4 linked regions of the Homo sapiens genome follow. The protein of the gene in region 1 purifies or fractionates together with the protein of each later gene. This does not show direct contact. Each region holds a gene or a part of one and is shown in the gene's direction. Other genes may lie near its edges.

Region 1 (3,500 bases):
TACAGGTCTTTTGATGAACATATGTACACATTTCTGTTGAGTAAATAAGTAGAAGTATGATTTCTGCGTAATAGGAAATGCATGTTCAGATTTAGTAAATACTGCCAGATTGTTTTTTTTTAAACAGATTACAAAAGAGATTTCTAAAGCGGGTATCCAGGCCAGGCGCGGTGGCTCACGCCTGTAATCCCAGCACTTTGGGAGGCCGAGGCGGGCGGATCACGGGGTCAGGAGATCGAGATAGTCCTGGCTAACACGGTGAAACCCCGTCTCTACTAAAAATACAAAAAATTAGCCCGGCGTGGTTGCAGGCACCTGTAGTCCCAGCTACTCGGGAGGCTGAGGCAGGAGAATGGCCTGAACCTGGGAGGCGGAGCTTGCAGTGAGCCGAGATCGCACCACTGCACTCCAGCCTGGGTGACAGAGCGAGCCTACATCTCAAAAAAAAAAAAAAAAAAAAAAAAAAAAAAAAAAAAAAAAAAAAAAAAGAGGGTATCCAAAGGGAAGAACATAGTGAAAAGGTGCTCCACATCACTAGTTATCAGGGAAATGCAAATTAGAACCACAACACCATGCTGCTATATACATATCAGAATGGCTGAAATTAAAAAGATAGAAAGTAGCAAATGCTGGCAAGGTGGACCATTCAGAATGTTCACATATTTTTTAACCACTACTCACAATAAGTAATATATTTACATTGCCACCAAGTACTCTTACATATGTAACAAAGTTTCTTGTAACAATACTTAACTTTACTATGTGTTTTGCACTCTGATATTTGCTATTCTATTCTTTTTCTTTAAAAATAAAATGTTGGCTCTGATTCACTGAATTTATTTCTCCACCTAATGGGTCACAGTTGGAAAAATCCTATAATCACAGATCATGGCTGACATCTCAGATCCTTCCTAACTCACAGATCAGATTAGTTCATAAACACTTATTAAAAATTTGAGGGCCGGATGAAATGGCTCACGCCTGTAGTCTCAACAGTTTGAGAGGCCAAGGCAGGTGGATGACTTGAGGTCAGAAGTTCGAGACCAGTCTGGCCAACGTGCTGAAACCCCATCTCTACTAAAAATACAAAAATTAGCCGGGTGTGGTGCCTGCACCTGTAGTCCCAGCTACTTAGGAGCCTGAGGCAGGAGAATCCCTTGAACCCGGGAGGCGGATGTTGCAGTGAGCTGAGATTATACCACTGCACTCCAGCCTGGGTGACACAGTGAGACTCTGTCTCAAAAATAAATAAATAAATAAATAAATTTTGAGAGCCCCAAACAGGTCAGACGCTGTGCTAGATGCTAAGAATAAAACAATGAATGCAATGAATGAGACTGGGTCTCTGCCTTTAATGGCTTTACATTGTCATCATCTATAATTTTAATAGAGAGACACTAAGGCAGAGATACGCAGTGGCTGCTCTGGGTACACAGTGGATAGGGGATTGAAAGAATAAAAATTAACCATAATTGATAACATTTATTAAGCTTTAATTGTGTGCTAATCTCTTTGAATACTTAATTCACCTAATCCTTACAACCCTATGAAGTAAATGTTATACTCATTTTTAAGAAAAGGAAATTGAGCTTCAGAAAGATTAAATAATTTTCCCAGAGTGACACACACAGCCGAGAAAGAAATATAGCCTTGAACTGTTTCATTCCAAAATCTATGCTTTTACTTTATTTTAGTAGAGTTTTGTAGGTGACTCAGTTTATGACTTGTTTCTGAAGCTAGCTACTTGCTCAATTTACCCACAAAGGACAAGGTGCTTGGTATTTTAGTTCTCAAAGTTAGATATGCTCTACTCCCAGCTACACATCATCTGCCCCTCTACAGCTCAATGGAAAGGTTCCCCCTACCCGCTGGGGCCGTTACCTGACTGTTGCCAAACTCACTGGTTAAATCATTTGGACAGAGCATGGTTGGCTCTGGAATAGCAAATTTTCTATGAATATACTGGCATTACAAAAAGCTGATTTGGTCACCAGCTTTCAGATTTATTTCCGTGAACAGGGCGAGAGTTGTCAAAAGAATAAGCTCATGGAGCTGATGAAGAACTTGATGATGAGGGGAGGTTTTCTCACCCGGCAGGTCCAGTGTCAACCAGGCAAACAGCTTCTACTGCTCTAAATTTTTAGCATCCACCTGTCTGGACTAGCAACTCCCTACACCTTCTGCTTTAAAGATTATCAGTACTTCAGGATTACTGTTTGTATTAATTTCCTGTTGCTGGTGTAACAAATCACCACAAACTTTTTTTTTTTTTTTTGAGATGGAGTCTCACTCTGTTGCCCAGGCTAGCGTGCAGTGGTGCAATCTTGGCTCACTGCAACCTCCGCCTCTCAGGTTCAAGGGATTCTCCTGCCTCAGCCTCCCAAGTAGCTGGGATTACAGGCACATGGCACCACACTCAGCTAATTTTTGTATTTTTAGTAGAGACGGGGTTTCACCATGTTGGCCTGGCTGGTCTCAAACTCCTGACCTCAAGTGATCCACCCGCCTTGGCCTCCCAAAGTGCTGGGATTACAGGTGTGAGCCACTGCGCCCAGCCAAATCACCACAAACTTAGTGGCTTAAAACAATACAAATGTATTGCCTTAAAGTTCTGGAGGTCAGAAGTCTGAAATTTGGTCTTCTAGGTTAAAACCAAGGTATCAGCAGGACTGTGCTCCTTCTAGAGGCTCTAAAGGAGAATTTGTTCCTTGCCCTTCATGGCTTCGAGAGACTGCCCACATTCTGGGTTCATAGCCCCTTCCAGCAATGCCATCACTGGCCTCTGCTTCTATCATCACATCTCCTTTGATCATTCTGACCCTCCAGTGTCCCTCTTACTAGGACCCTTATGATTACATTGGACCCAACCAGATAATCCAGGATAATCTCCTCATCTCAAAATCTTTAGTCACATCTGCAAAGCCCTCTCTTGCTATGGAAAGTGGCATATACACAGGATCTGGGGATTAGGAATGTGGACATTCTTATAAGGCCATTATTTTAGCCTACCACATCGTTCAATGCTGAAAAAGTCATTACTAATTATCTTCCCCATTTCAGTGGAAATGTTCTGGTTTCTAGCATATGAGAAAGCTGAGTAAACATCAGGTGAATCATATATGAACCTTATACAACTTCCCCGAACACATAACTCAAGAAAAGAGTGAACTAGAAATGTTTAAGGGCAAACTATAAGACTGAAGGTTAAAAAAGGAAAGCAAATTAGTCTGTTTTGTTTTGTTTTCTATTCCCCTGCAATTTGATTTAATAAAATGCAAGCATTAATTGCATTTGCTTGCTGTATCTGTGAAAATTTGGAAAATGGAAGTAACATTCAAGAAAATTAATGATCTGGTTTCAAAATTTAAGAATTTTGACTTTGTTTCTTTTCTGGAGTACAGCCTTCAAGCAAGACAAGGTGTCCATTTACCACAGCTATATTGTACTTAACAGATCTCCATTGATAGCTTATTTGAATTTGTTTTTCTCTATATAAATGT
Region 2 (3,500 bases), about 65 Mb from region 1:
AGTGTCTAAGTGTTCACTTTTCTCTGCAACCTTGCCAGCATCTGTTATTTTTTGACTATTTGTTTATTTATTTATTTATTTATTTATTTTCTGGAGATGGAGTCTTGCTCTGTCGCCCAGGCTGCAGTGCAGTGGCGTGATCTCGGTTCACTACAACCTCTGCCTCCTGAGTTCAAGCGATTCTCGTGCTTCAGGCTCCCAAGTAGCTGGGACTACCGGCATGCACTACAACACCTGGTTAATTTTTGTATTTTTTAGTAGAGACAGGGTTTCACCATATTGGTCAGGCTGGTCTTGAACTCCCGACCTCAAGTGGTGCACCCTCCTTGGCCTCTCAAAGTGCTGGGATTACAGGGGTGAGCCACTATGCCCTTCCATTTTTTTACTTTTTAGTAATAGCCATTCTGACTGGTGTGGAATGGTATCTCATTGTGGTTTTGACTTGCTTGCATTTCTCTAATGATCGGTGATATTGAGCATTTTTTCATATCTTTGTTGGCCGCATGTATGTCTTGTTTTAGAAAGTGTCAGTTCATGTCCTTTGCCCACCTTTTCATGGGGTTGTTTGTTTCTTGTAAATTTGTTTAAGTTCCTCATAGATGCTGGATATTAGACCTTTGGCAGATGCATATGGTTTGCAAATATTTTCTCCCATTCTGTAGGTTGTCTGTTTACCGTTGATAGTTTCTTTTGCTGTGCAGAATCTCTTCAGTTTAATTAGATCCCACTTGACAGTGTTTGCTTTTGTTGGAATTGCTTTTGGTGTCTTTGTCATGAAACCTTTGTCCATTCTTATGTCCAGGGTGGCATTGCCTAGGTTGTCTTTCAAGGTTTTTATACTCCGGGGTTTTGCATTTAGGTCTTTAATCCATTTTGAGTTGATTTTTGTATATGGTATAAGGAAGGGATCTATCTTCAGTCTTTTGCATGTGGCTAGCCAGTTATCCCAGCACCATTTATTGAGTAGGGAAACTTTTCCCCATTGCTTGGTTTTGTCAGCTTTGTCAAAGATCGGGTGGTCGTAGGTGTATGGACTTATTTCTGGGTTGTCATAGTTGAAATCATAGTAAATATATATAGTCTTGTCTCTGACTTTTTTCACTTTTATAATAACAAGCATGCAAACATCATTCTAATGGCTTGTTTGTAAATGTACCATAAAATATGTAGCCACTCTTCTATCGTTGAGTGTTCAGGTTTTATTTTTGATTTTTTTATTATTATAAATAACTATGATAAACATCCTTATACATAAAAGTTTTTTCCTTATTTTACATTATTTCCTTAGCATATATTCCCAGAAGTAGAATTACTGGGTCAAGGAATAGGAACATTTTTAAGGCTTTTGATACATATTGCCAAATTGCTTTCCAAAGTTATTATGCCATTTTACACTTCTACCATTAGTGTATTATAGTGCCTATTTCATAACACTATCACTGGGTATACTCATTTTTAAAATATTTACTGATTTCATAGGCAATAAATTGTATCTCATTGTTTTAATTCTCATGTTTTTTATTTATTTTTCAAATGGTTAATAGCCATTTGGTATTTCTTTATGTGTCTGTAAATTATTAGTTCATTTCCTTGGCCCATTTATCTATTGTAATTTAACATTTTTCTTATTGATGTGTTTTGATTTCTATACCTTGGGTATTAACTTGTGTCTGACATATTTACTATAAACATTAGCACACAATTTAAACATATGAATCAAAAAGTTAAAGAGAGTTAATGCCTATTTCTATTAAAAAACAAAGTGCTATTCCTGTTATACCACTCCTTCCCTTAAAAAGATATACACAGTATCAGGAAAAAAAAGAGAAAAAGAAAATCTCTATAGCGCTAAAGTATTATATTTTTGCTAGAATTTTGAAAACTAAGTAGTTTGTAAAGCTAAAATTTTGACAAAAGGGTGGAATGTGGTGAGTCGTGATGGTAGAGGGTACCTCTGAGGGCAGAGCAATAGATCTGGGTAGAATTCAGCTTATTTCTCTTCATGACAGGTTTTTGGGGTTGTTAAAAAATCTCTTGTGTCAGTTGATACTGACCATAGTTAATAAACTATATTAGCATGTTAATATGAAGATGTTATTCTTATTTATTTTCTTATGAATACTTACAAATTTTAATTTTAGTAAGCTTAATATGAAAAAAACAAACATAACCTGTGATTTTTACATTTGGTTTGCAAAGCACTTTTTACACACGTTACTCCCTTTCATTTGATACAGTCCTCACAAAACTCTGTGAATTCATTTTTTTCCTGCATATCTTTTAGATATAGGAAGCAAGACAGTAGATAGCAGAAGTAAAGTATACCTAAATATTTACATGAATTGAATTTTACATTAAACTTTTTGCTTTCACAAAATCCTATGAAGCAGATGGGATTATCCCTAGCACATTCACCCTCCTAACTCCAAAAATATAGAGTATTTTGAAGTCAACTTCATTATTTACTATGTAGTCCAGTTTCTATTATTTTCTTTGAAAACTTTTGATCTTTCTAGGCATGCTGTGGAAAATCTGTTTCATAAGATTATGGACCTAGAGTGGGCCTTAAGAAGTAATGTGGTCTAACTGCCTTCCTGTTATTGAGCAAGAACTAAATTATACCAGTGAAATAAAGAAAATTTCATTGTCTATAATATTCTTAATAATTTTAGGAAGAAGATTTAATACTCTTTCCTAATATCCAATTTCAGTATCTGGAAATCCTCTCCTTTGTTTAATTTAAATCTGACCTGATACATTTGGTTCATTTTTAAATTCTGTCCTGAATAGCTGCTCAGCAATTGCTTTAAAAAAATTTTTATATGCTTCCAGATCATTTTGAAATTATCTTTGACTTCATTCTCTTTTGAGTAACTTAAGTAACAATTGACATTGGTGTTGGTTTATCTCAGGGCTACAATAAGGCAGTGGATTGGTGGGCATTAGGAGTGCTAATCTATGAAATGGCAGCTGGCTATCCCCCATTCTTTGCAGACCAACCAATTCAGATTTATGAAAAGATTGTTTCTGGAAAGGTAAGTAAAACATTTTATTATTCCTCTCTTATTACTGTATATGAATTTTAAGCTTCATGAATTGAAACTATATTGTGTCATAATTATTATTCTACATTGGGAAAAATATAGAAAAATCTACAGTTGCTGCTCTTACTATCATAAGAATTGAATCATTTCAGTCTCTTAAGAAAAAAAGGGCAGTTTTATAAAGAAATTAACAAAACAGTAAAGCAATTTCTGTATTTAGTATTTTTATCACAAAGAACAGGATCATAGCCATAATTCTCGATATTCCTTCAAATAAATAAAAATAGTTTATTATTTCATGTGTCTATCTTCATGGAGAAAAGTTTTAGGGGCTGTTTTATATGCCCTTCCATTTTCAGGAGAGACTTCTTGTTTTAATTATGTCCAATACTATAACATTGGAAGTAAAAGTAAATATAAAATGAATAAGCCTTTTTCAGATGGAAATTTATAGAA
Region 3 (3,500 bases), on another chromosome or scaffold:
ATTTTAACTTGAGCCTATCATTTATTTATCATTTAAGTACTTTTTTTTTTAAACCATTGTTGCCTTTCTTTCAGTTAATCTATCTTGTATATTCTGCTCAGGAAATAAAACACTAATGGATTCAGATTTTCTTTGGAAAGACAAGAGTTTGTATAACTTTATGGAGAATCTCAGCATTAGAAAAGTTATTAATTTCATTTTGTAATTTTTGTTATAATCTCAAAGATTGGTTTCAGCGTTTTTATTTCATAGTGATGTTTTCAAGTCTCTACAACTGAAAATGAACTCCTAAGCTTTTTAATAGTCTCTATAGTTGTTAGGTGGTTATGAAATTATATTTTCCTGGGAGAAAAAAAAACCTTTGATTTAAGTCCTAGAGTTTTTTCAGAGTCTTTATTATACCTGAAGGGGAAAAAACAGTATTAACTCTAAATATAGTTAAAGAATTATATGTATATAATAATAGATCACTCCTGATAATTTATATTTGCCAGATACTGATATTAAAATAACAGGAAAATTCTGCTATCTACAATGTAATGGTGCTAACTAAAGTTTTATGTGTTTCTTCATTTTTCTAACATATTTATTGACTCTCTTGGCAAGTACGAATATAGTGGCCAACAAGAGAGAGGTTTCTGGTCTCAAAGAGCATATATTTTAGTGAGGGAGGCAGATGATAAATGAAACAAGTAGGATAGTGAGAAATAGTGATAAATTCTCTGAAGAAATAAAACAGGATAATGTGATAGGGAATGATGGAATTATTTCTGAGGGCTCTGTTCTGTTCCATTGGTCTATATCTCTGTTTTGGTACCAGTACCATGCTGTTTTGGTTACTGTAGCCTTGTAGTATAGTTTGAAGTCAGGTAGCGTGATGCCTCCAGCTTTGTTCTCTTGGCTTAGGATTGACTTGGCAATGTGGGCTCTTTTTTGGTTCCTTATGAACTTTAAAGTAGTTTTTTCCAATTCTGTGAAGAAAGTCATTTCTGTGAAGAAAGTCATTCCTGATGGGAATGGCATTGAATCTATAAATTACCTTGGGCAGTATGGCCATTTTCACAATATTGATTCTTCCTATCCATGAGCATGGAATGTTCTTCCATTTGTTTGTATCCTCTTTTATTTCGTTGAGCAGTCGTTTGTAGTTCTCCTTGAAGAGGCCCTTCATATCCCTTGTAAGTTGGATTCCTAGGTATTTTATTCTCATTGAAGCAATTGTGAATGGGAGTTCACTCATGATTTGGCTCTCTGTTCGTCTGTTGTTGGTGTATAAGAATGCTTGTGATTTTTGCACATTGATTTTGTATCCTGAGACTTTGCTGAAGTTGCTTATCAGCTTAAGGAGATTTTGGGCTGAGACGATGGGGTTTTCTAGATATACAATCACGTCATCTGCAAACAGGGACAATTTGACTTCCTCTTTTCCTAATTGAATACCCTTTATTTCTTTCTCCTGCCTGATTTCCCTGGCCAGAACTTCCAACACTATGTTGAATAGGAGTGGTGAGAGAGGGCATCCCTGTCTTGTGCCAGTTTTCAAAGGGAATGCTTCCGGTTTTTGTCCATTCAGTATGATATTGGCTGTGGGTTTGTCATAAATAGCTCTTACTATTTTGAGATATGCCCCATCAGTACCTAATTTATTGAGAGTTTTTAGCATGAAGTGCTGTTGAATTTTGTCCAAGGCCTTTTCTGCATCTATTGAGATAATCATGTGGTTTTTGTCTTTGGTTCTGTTTATATGCTGGATTACACTTACTGATTTGCGTATGTTGAACCAGCCTTGCATCCCAGGGATGAAGCCCACTTGATCATGGTGGATGAGCTTTCTGATGTGCTGCTGCATTTGGTTTGCCAGTATTTTATTGAGGATTTTTGCATCGATGTTCATCAGGATATTGGGAATGTTGGAGAGGGTAGTAACAACATTAAATATGGTGGTCAGGAAACATCTCTAGGAGGAATTGACATTTGAGCTGAAATCTGAATGACATTGAAATTAGAGCAATTGTAAAGACACGGGTAAGTTTAAAGAACAGAATGAAGGCTTGTGTAGTTGAGTTTGAGAGAGCGGGAGAGTGGAAGAAGAGTTTGAAGGAGGAAGAGACCAGACCTTGGAGAATCTTGCAGACTTTGGAAGCCATTGGAAAGTTTTCTCTTTTTATTCCTAAATATATCATATTTATGATCTTATATCAAATGTCGAGATATTTTATATTTATGATTTATATCAAATGTAGAGATATTTTATATATTTACTTGCCTAAATAGAGTCAAGAAATTCGAATTGCTTAACGATTTTTTTGTTTGTTTGTTTTTGAGACCGAGTCTCACTCTGTCACCCGGGCTGGAGTGCAGTGGCGTGATCTCAGCTCACTACAACCTCCGCCTCCCGGGTTCAATCAATTCTCCTGCCTCAGCCTCCTGAGTAGCTGGGATTACAGGCATGCACCACCACCACGCCTGGGTAATTTTTGTATTTTTAGTAGAGACAAGGTTTCACCATGTTGGCCAGTTTGGTCTCAAACTCCTGACCTTAGGTGATCCAACAGCCTCGGCCTCCCAAAGTGCTGGGATTACAGGCGTGAGCCACCATGCCTGGCCAAATTGCTTAACTGTTAATGTTCTGTTAAATGTCTGGAATTGTTTTCAAAACCAAAATGTATGGCAGTTACTTGTGAAAATGTCACACATCTTTTAAAATTTTTTAGGAAGCATTTTTGGGAGAAGACCTGAATTTGACCCTCAGATGGTCAAATTTTCTTATTAGGAATTCTAATTTTCTTTTTCTTTTTCTTTTTTTTTTGAGACAGGCTCTCACTGCCGTCCAGGCTAGAGTCTCATGGCGCAATCACAGCATCCTGCAGCCTTGACCTCCTGGACTCAGGTGATCCTCTCACCTCAGCCTCCTGAGTAGCTAGTATTACAGGCATGCACCACACACCCAGCTAGGTTTTTGTATTTTTTGTAGAGACAGGGATTTGCCATGTTGCCCAGGCTGGTCTCAAACTTCTGGGCTTAAATGATCTTCTTGCCTTGGCCTCCTGAAATGCTGGGATTACAGGCATGAGTCTTTGTCACCAGCCAGAATTCTATTTTCTGTACTAAAGAGATACTAAAAAGATACTTTTGATGGCATTCAGATTCCCTCTATTTGACATTGACTACATAAAGTAAAGCCTGTAAACTTCCTGCCCGTTCATCATTACCAAGACAAACCTTTATTGATGGGAAGGGAAGTTCACAGAAGAAATCGAGCAGTGACTTACACAATAGTAACACCTAAGAGCAGCCTAAATATGCTTGAAATAATGTGGATGCCACACAGATATCTCTAATACACTTAGGTAGTTTGGGCAGAAGGAGAAAAATAAAAACATCATAGAAGTCTTTTCAGTGTTGGGATGCAAGGAAGAAGGAAGAGTGGCAGGAATTTTTTAGATACTGATTAATTATTGATGCTGGGAGAGGTCATAGATTGAAGTGTATGTGTTTAA
Region 4 (4,220 bases), on another chromosome or scaffold:
TGTACAGTTGAATTTATGGTATATAAATTATATGTTAATAAAAAGGGGGTCCACAAAACAAACAGCCCCCCACTCTGGTTGTCAGGGAGATATTGGATTAAATGGCCTTGGACAACAACCCCTCTCCCTGGCCACAGACATTCTTCAGATTACAAGATATTCCAGGGGAAACACTGGAATGAGTCTGAAGCCAGGTGCTAAACAGAAGGACCATTGAGAAATGTTGTGATCCTGACAGGTCAAGCAATTTATTTTTCGGCTTCATTTTTAAATGTAAAATTAGAAAGCTGCCATTTAAAATGGCCCGTCTGTTTCAATTGCTCTTCTCAGTGTCAGCCTGTTAACTCAATGTGTTAGTCTGTTTTCATGCTGCTGATAAAAACATACCTGAGACTGGCAAGAAAAAGAGGTTTAATTGGGCTTAGAGTTCCACGTGATTGGGGAGGCCTCAGAATCACAGTAGGAGGCAAAAGTTATTCTTACATGGTGGCTGCAAGAGAAGATGAGGAAGAAGCAAAAGAAGAAACCCCTGATAAACCCATCGGATCTCCTGAGGCTTATTAACTATCATGAGAATAGCACAAGAAAGACCGGCCCCCATGATTCAATTACCTCTACCTGGGTCCCTCCAATAACATGTGGAAATTCTGGTAGATACAATTCAAGTTGAGATTTGGGTGGGAACACAGCCAAACCATATCACTCAGCAAGGCAGATAACTTTCTCACTGAGCCTATGCAACAGAAAACCATCTGGGATGGTTGTAAGGGGCACAGGAAGTGACTGGTAGGATCACTGCCAAAGCTGAGCACTCAGGAGAAGGCAATAGAATCCTATTCTCCATAGTATGCTATAAGATACTGAAGTACACTTCTTCACTATCTCTTTGGACTTAGAATTAGCACTACATTCCTTGTTATACAGAAAAATTACTAAGGAAATTCATAGGATGACAAAAACTTTCAGAACTGAAAAACAGGAAATGTAAGCTTTTTAGTTCTTTGGTATTCGAAGTATGCCTAAAAGACAATGCAAAATCCAAGAAAAGAATGGTGGGGTTTTTGTTTGTTTGTTTTTGTTTTTGTTTTACAGCTGGAGTAGAATACAAAGGGATGGAGTTGAAACAAATGAGAGGAAATTGGAATTCTAAACTTATTCTCATTGGCATTAGAAAGGCACCTACATGTATTTCACATGAGCCGGTGACTGCTGACTTGCATTCTTATTTTTTCCCTATAGATTAAAAAGGAGGTACAATGGTAGAACTGTAATCCTGTCCTTTGTCATAAATTTTCATATTCATAAAGGTGAGTGTTAGCCCGCTTGTGAAATCTGAAGTTGAGTAACTTCAAATACTAACCACAGAGGGAAAGGCAGCAAGAGGAGAGGCATAAATTTAGGATCTCACCCTTCATTCCACAGACACACACAGCCTCTCTGCCCACCTCTGCTTCCTCTAGGAACACAGGTAAGAGCTTCAAGCCTCTCCAGCTTAATAACATGAATTATTTTTGAGAATAATAATGATACTGTGTTCTATATCATGCATCTCCTGCATTCTGTCTGATTATATTTTACTTATTCTGCCAGAGCAAAATTAAAATACCTATTTCATCTGATTTGTCCTTTATCTAAATTGCTTAGTTCCAAGTAAACCAAGGCACTTTTAGGAACACAGAGGGAGAGTGCCTTGCAGCCAGAGAGTCTTGAAGGAGATGTCAGGGACGCATCTTAACAGCTGGTTGGATGTGATCCACAGAGGTCTCCTGTTAGCATTCATTGTAAAGCCATCCTACCTAGCTCTAGTGTAACCAGCAATGAAAGAAAGATAAAGAGGGTCGATTACTTATTTACAATAGTCTTTAAAAACGTAGTTTTGTAAGCCTTCTAATTAGGACATTAATATATTTAATATATGCACATTGTAGAAAGATTGAAGCGTTAAAAATAAGAGAAAAACTTTAAATGTCAAAATCTCACAACCCAGATATATCATTTCTTTAAGAAAATTGTACTACAAAATACCATTCCATTTATTAAAGTCATTCTGACAGGAATCTGATGCTTTTCCAGGAGTTCCAGATCACATCGAGTTCACCATGAATTCACTCAGTGAAGCCAACACCAAGTTCATGTTCGATCTGTTCCAACAGTTCAGAAAATCAAAAGAGAACAACATCTTCTATTCCCCTATCAGCATCACATCAGCATTAGGGATGGTCCTCTTAGGAGCCAAAGACAACACTGCACAACAAATTAGCAAGGTAGCTATCAGCATCATTACGTTGTCCTGTTGCAGTTTTTCTCTGGTTCCGTCGGCTAGCACGCAGATGGTAATAGATGTGGTGGTCTGATGGGTAGCACAGGGGGCTGTGCAGGAATTCCCATAACTGTGAGACCACTGACTTAAACAGATCTTTTGAGTAAAGTTTTCTTGTCCCGCTTCATGTCTCTTCCAGGTTCTTCACTTTGATCAAGTCACAGAGAACACCACAGAAAAAGCTGCAACATATCATGTGAGTCACAGAGCACTATGGTTCAGCTTTAGATCCCTGAACAGGTCATAGTTTAAACCTGGAACTTCACAAAAACTAAGAAAAGGCCAGTTTTAGGGAAAATCTTGGACACAAAGATTGAGACATACAGAGTGGGTTGGCATTTCATGGCACATAATTATTATTCCTCATTTCTGCGTTACTAAAAGACAGTCAGCACTGTACCTCAGAGCATAGGTCTGGATCAGGATAGGCTGGGTTCAGACTCCAGCTTTGCTCTTCACAAATGATGAATAAGAGCAGGACACAACTGCTCGGAGTCCCAGTGACCTCATCCCAGAAAACTAAGGGTAAGAAAAAATCTGACTCAATACATGCAAATACATGCAAATGTTTACAACAGTGCCTTGCCCATAAAAGTCATAATAAATGTTATTATTATTATAAAGTAGCTATAATTATACTAATCATAATAATGTGAAAATAATTTAATTTTCATTGAGTCATTAATGAGATTCAGAGGAATAAGCACAAGTCCAAGTATATTTTGGAAAATGATTGCTATGGAATATATTGGTTTAGAGCCTTAATAGTGCAAAATGCTTTGCTGGAAGGTAGAAAGTTCTAGATTTAAACAGGCTTAGGTTCAAAACTTGGCACTTCTAATTTATGTCTCTATAAACAGGGTTTTTTTCCCCATTCTCTGAGCTTTCTTGTGTTCATCTGAATTGAACTAAAGACTTAGAGTTACCCATGTAAAGTCCTTAGCCATGGACCTGGCATACACTCTTCTTACGTGCAGAGAATGACCATCATGAGGAAAGAGCCACAGATCAGTCAATGTGTCCTACAAGATAATAGCACCAACAGGTATAACAGGGCTTCCTGGCATAATCTATTTAAAATATCCAACCTTCAACATACTCGTATCCTTGATGACTGTTAGAAGTGAAATATGGTCCTTGCCCATAAGGAGCTGAGAGTTTAACTGGGAAGCTAAACCTAACCCTTTAAACCAACAAGGAGAAAATCTACTGGTAGACAGCGCTGCATCTTTAGTTCAGAAGAGAAAAGATTGCAGTACGTTAGAGCAAGAAGAATTTTCTGGAAGAAGTCAAATATAAGGTGGATTTTGAAGGGTATTTGAGGTGAAATACACCAATTATCAGGGAATAACATCAAAGGTCCTCAATGAGACTACCAGCATTTAGGGACTGATCTAACAGACTTAGCATGGGTTTAGTATTTACATTGATACAGCAATTGAATGATCTCCCTTTTTGATGTTTGAAGGTTGATAGGTCAGGAAATGTTCATCACCAGTTTCAAAAGCTTCTGACTGAATTCAACAAATCCACTGATGCATATGAGCTGAAGATCGCCAACAAGCTCTTCGGAGAAAAGACGTATCAATTTTTACAGGTAATTTCACCTGGCCTACCCACATTTCATTTGCATCCTGATGTCTGTGTCTCTGAGTGGCCAAATGGAAGAAAGCAAGGCAGATGAGCCTGGCCGACTCAGGTGGAGAGCATTTACTCAGAGTGCATTAGCTCCATTTCCACAACTCTCCCCCACTGGAGTGTCCCAGACCCCAACGATACATCACTGAAGTGTGGATTTAGGGATAATCTTGTGATAAAAGAGGAGGTTGTGTAATAGAGTGAGTAAGAGTAATAAGTAATAAGATACCATCGATAAACTGGCACTGACTCAGTCACATAC

What was found.
Region 2: the proteins of PDE4DIP (region 1) and PRKACB purify together in Homo sapiens (affinity purification with mass spectrometry; 6 studies listed by BioGRID and IntAct, with this or other methods). This does not show direct contact.
Region 3: the proteins of PDE4DIP (region 1) and AKAP9 purify together in Homo sapiens (affinity purification with mass spectrometry; 3 studies listed by BioGRID and IntAct, with this or other methods). This does not show direct contact.
Region 4: the proteins of PDE4DIP (region 1) and SERPINB4 purify together in Homo sapiens (affinity purification with mass spectrometry; 2 studies listed by BioGRID and IntAct, with this or other methods). This does not show direct contact.

Annotation. Positions count from the first base shown.
Region 1 is NC_000001.11:148,847,428-148,850,927, forward strand, and holds part of PDE4DIP (myomegalin), read left to right. Parts: intron 1-3,500. UniProt on the Homo sapiens protein: Functions as an anchor sequestering components of the cAMP-dependent pathway to Golgi and/or centrosomes.
Region 2 is NC_000001.11:84,199,771-84,203,270, forward strand, and holds part of PRKACB (cAMP-dependent protein kinase catalytic subunit beta), read left to right. Parts: intron 1-2,912; coding exon 2,913-3,035; intron 3,036-3,500. UniProt on the Homo sapiens protein: Mediates cAMP-dependent signaling triggered by receptor binding to GPCRs.
Region 3 is NC_000007.14:92,003,362-92,006,861, forward strand, and holds part of AKAP9 (A-kinase anchor protein 9), read left to right. Parts: intron 1-3,500. UniProt on the Homo sapiens protein: Scaffolding protein that assembles several protein kinases and phosphatases on the centrosome and Golgi apparatus. Required to maintain the integrity of the Golgi apparatus. Required for microtubule nucleation at the cis-side of the Golgi apparatus.
Region 4 is NC_000018.10:63,641,457-63,645,676, reverse strand, and holds the start of SERPINB4 (serpin B4), read left to right. Parts: upstream 1-1,420; 5' UTR 1,421-1,468; intron 1,469-2,054; exon of another isoform or gene 2,055-2,073; 5' UTR 2,074-2,099; coding exon 2,100-2,264; intron 2,265-2,459; coding exon 2,460-2,516; intron 2,517-3,788; coding exon 3,789-3,917; intron 3,918-4,220. UniProt on the Homo sapiens protein: May act as a protease inhibitor to modulate the host immune response against tumor cells.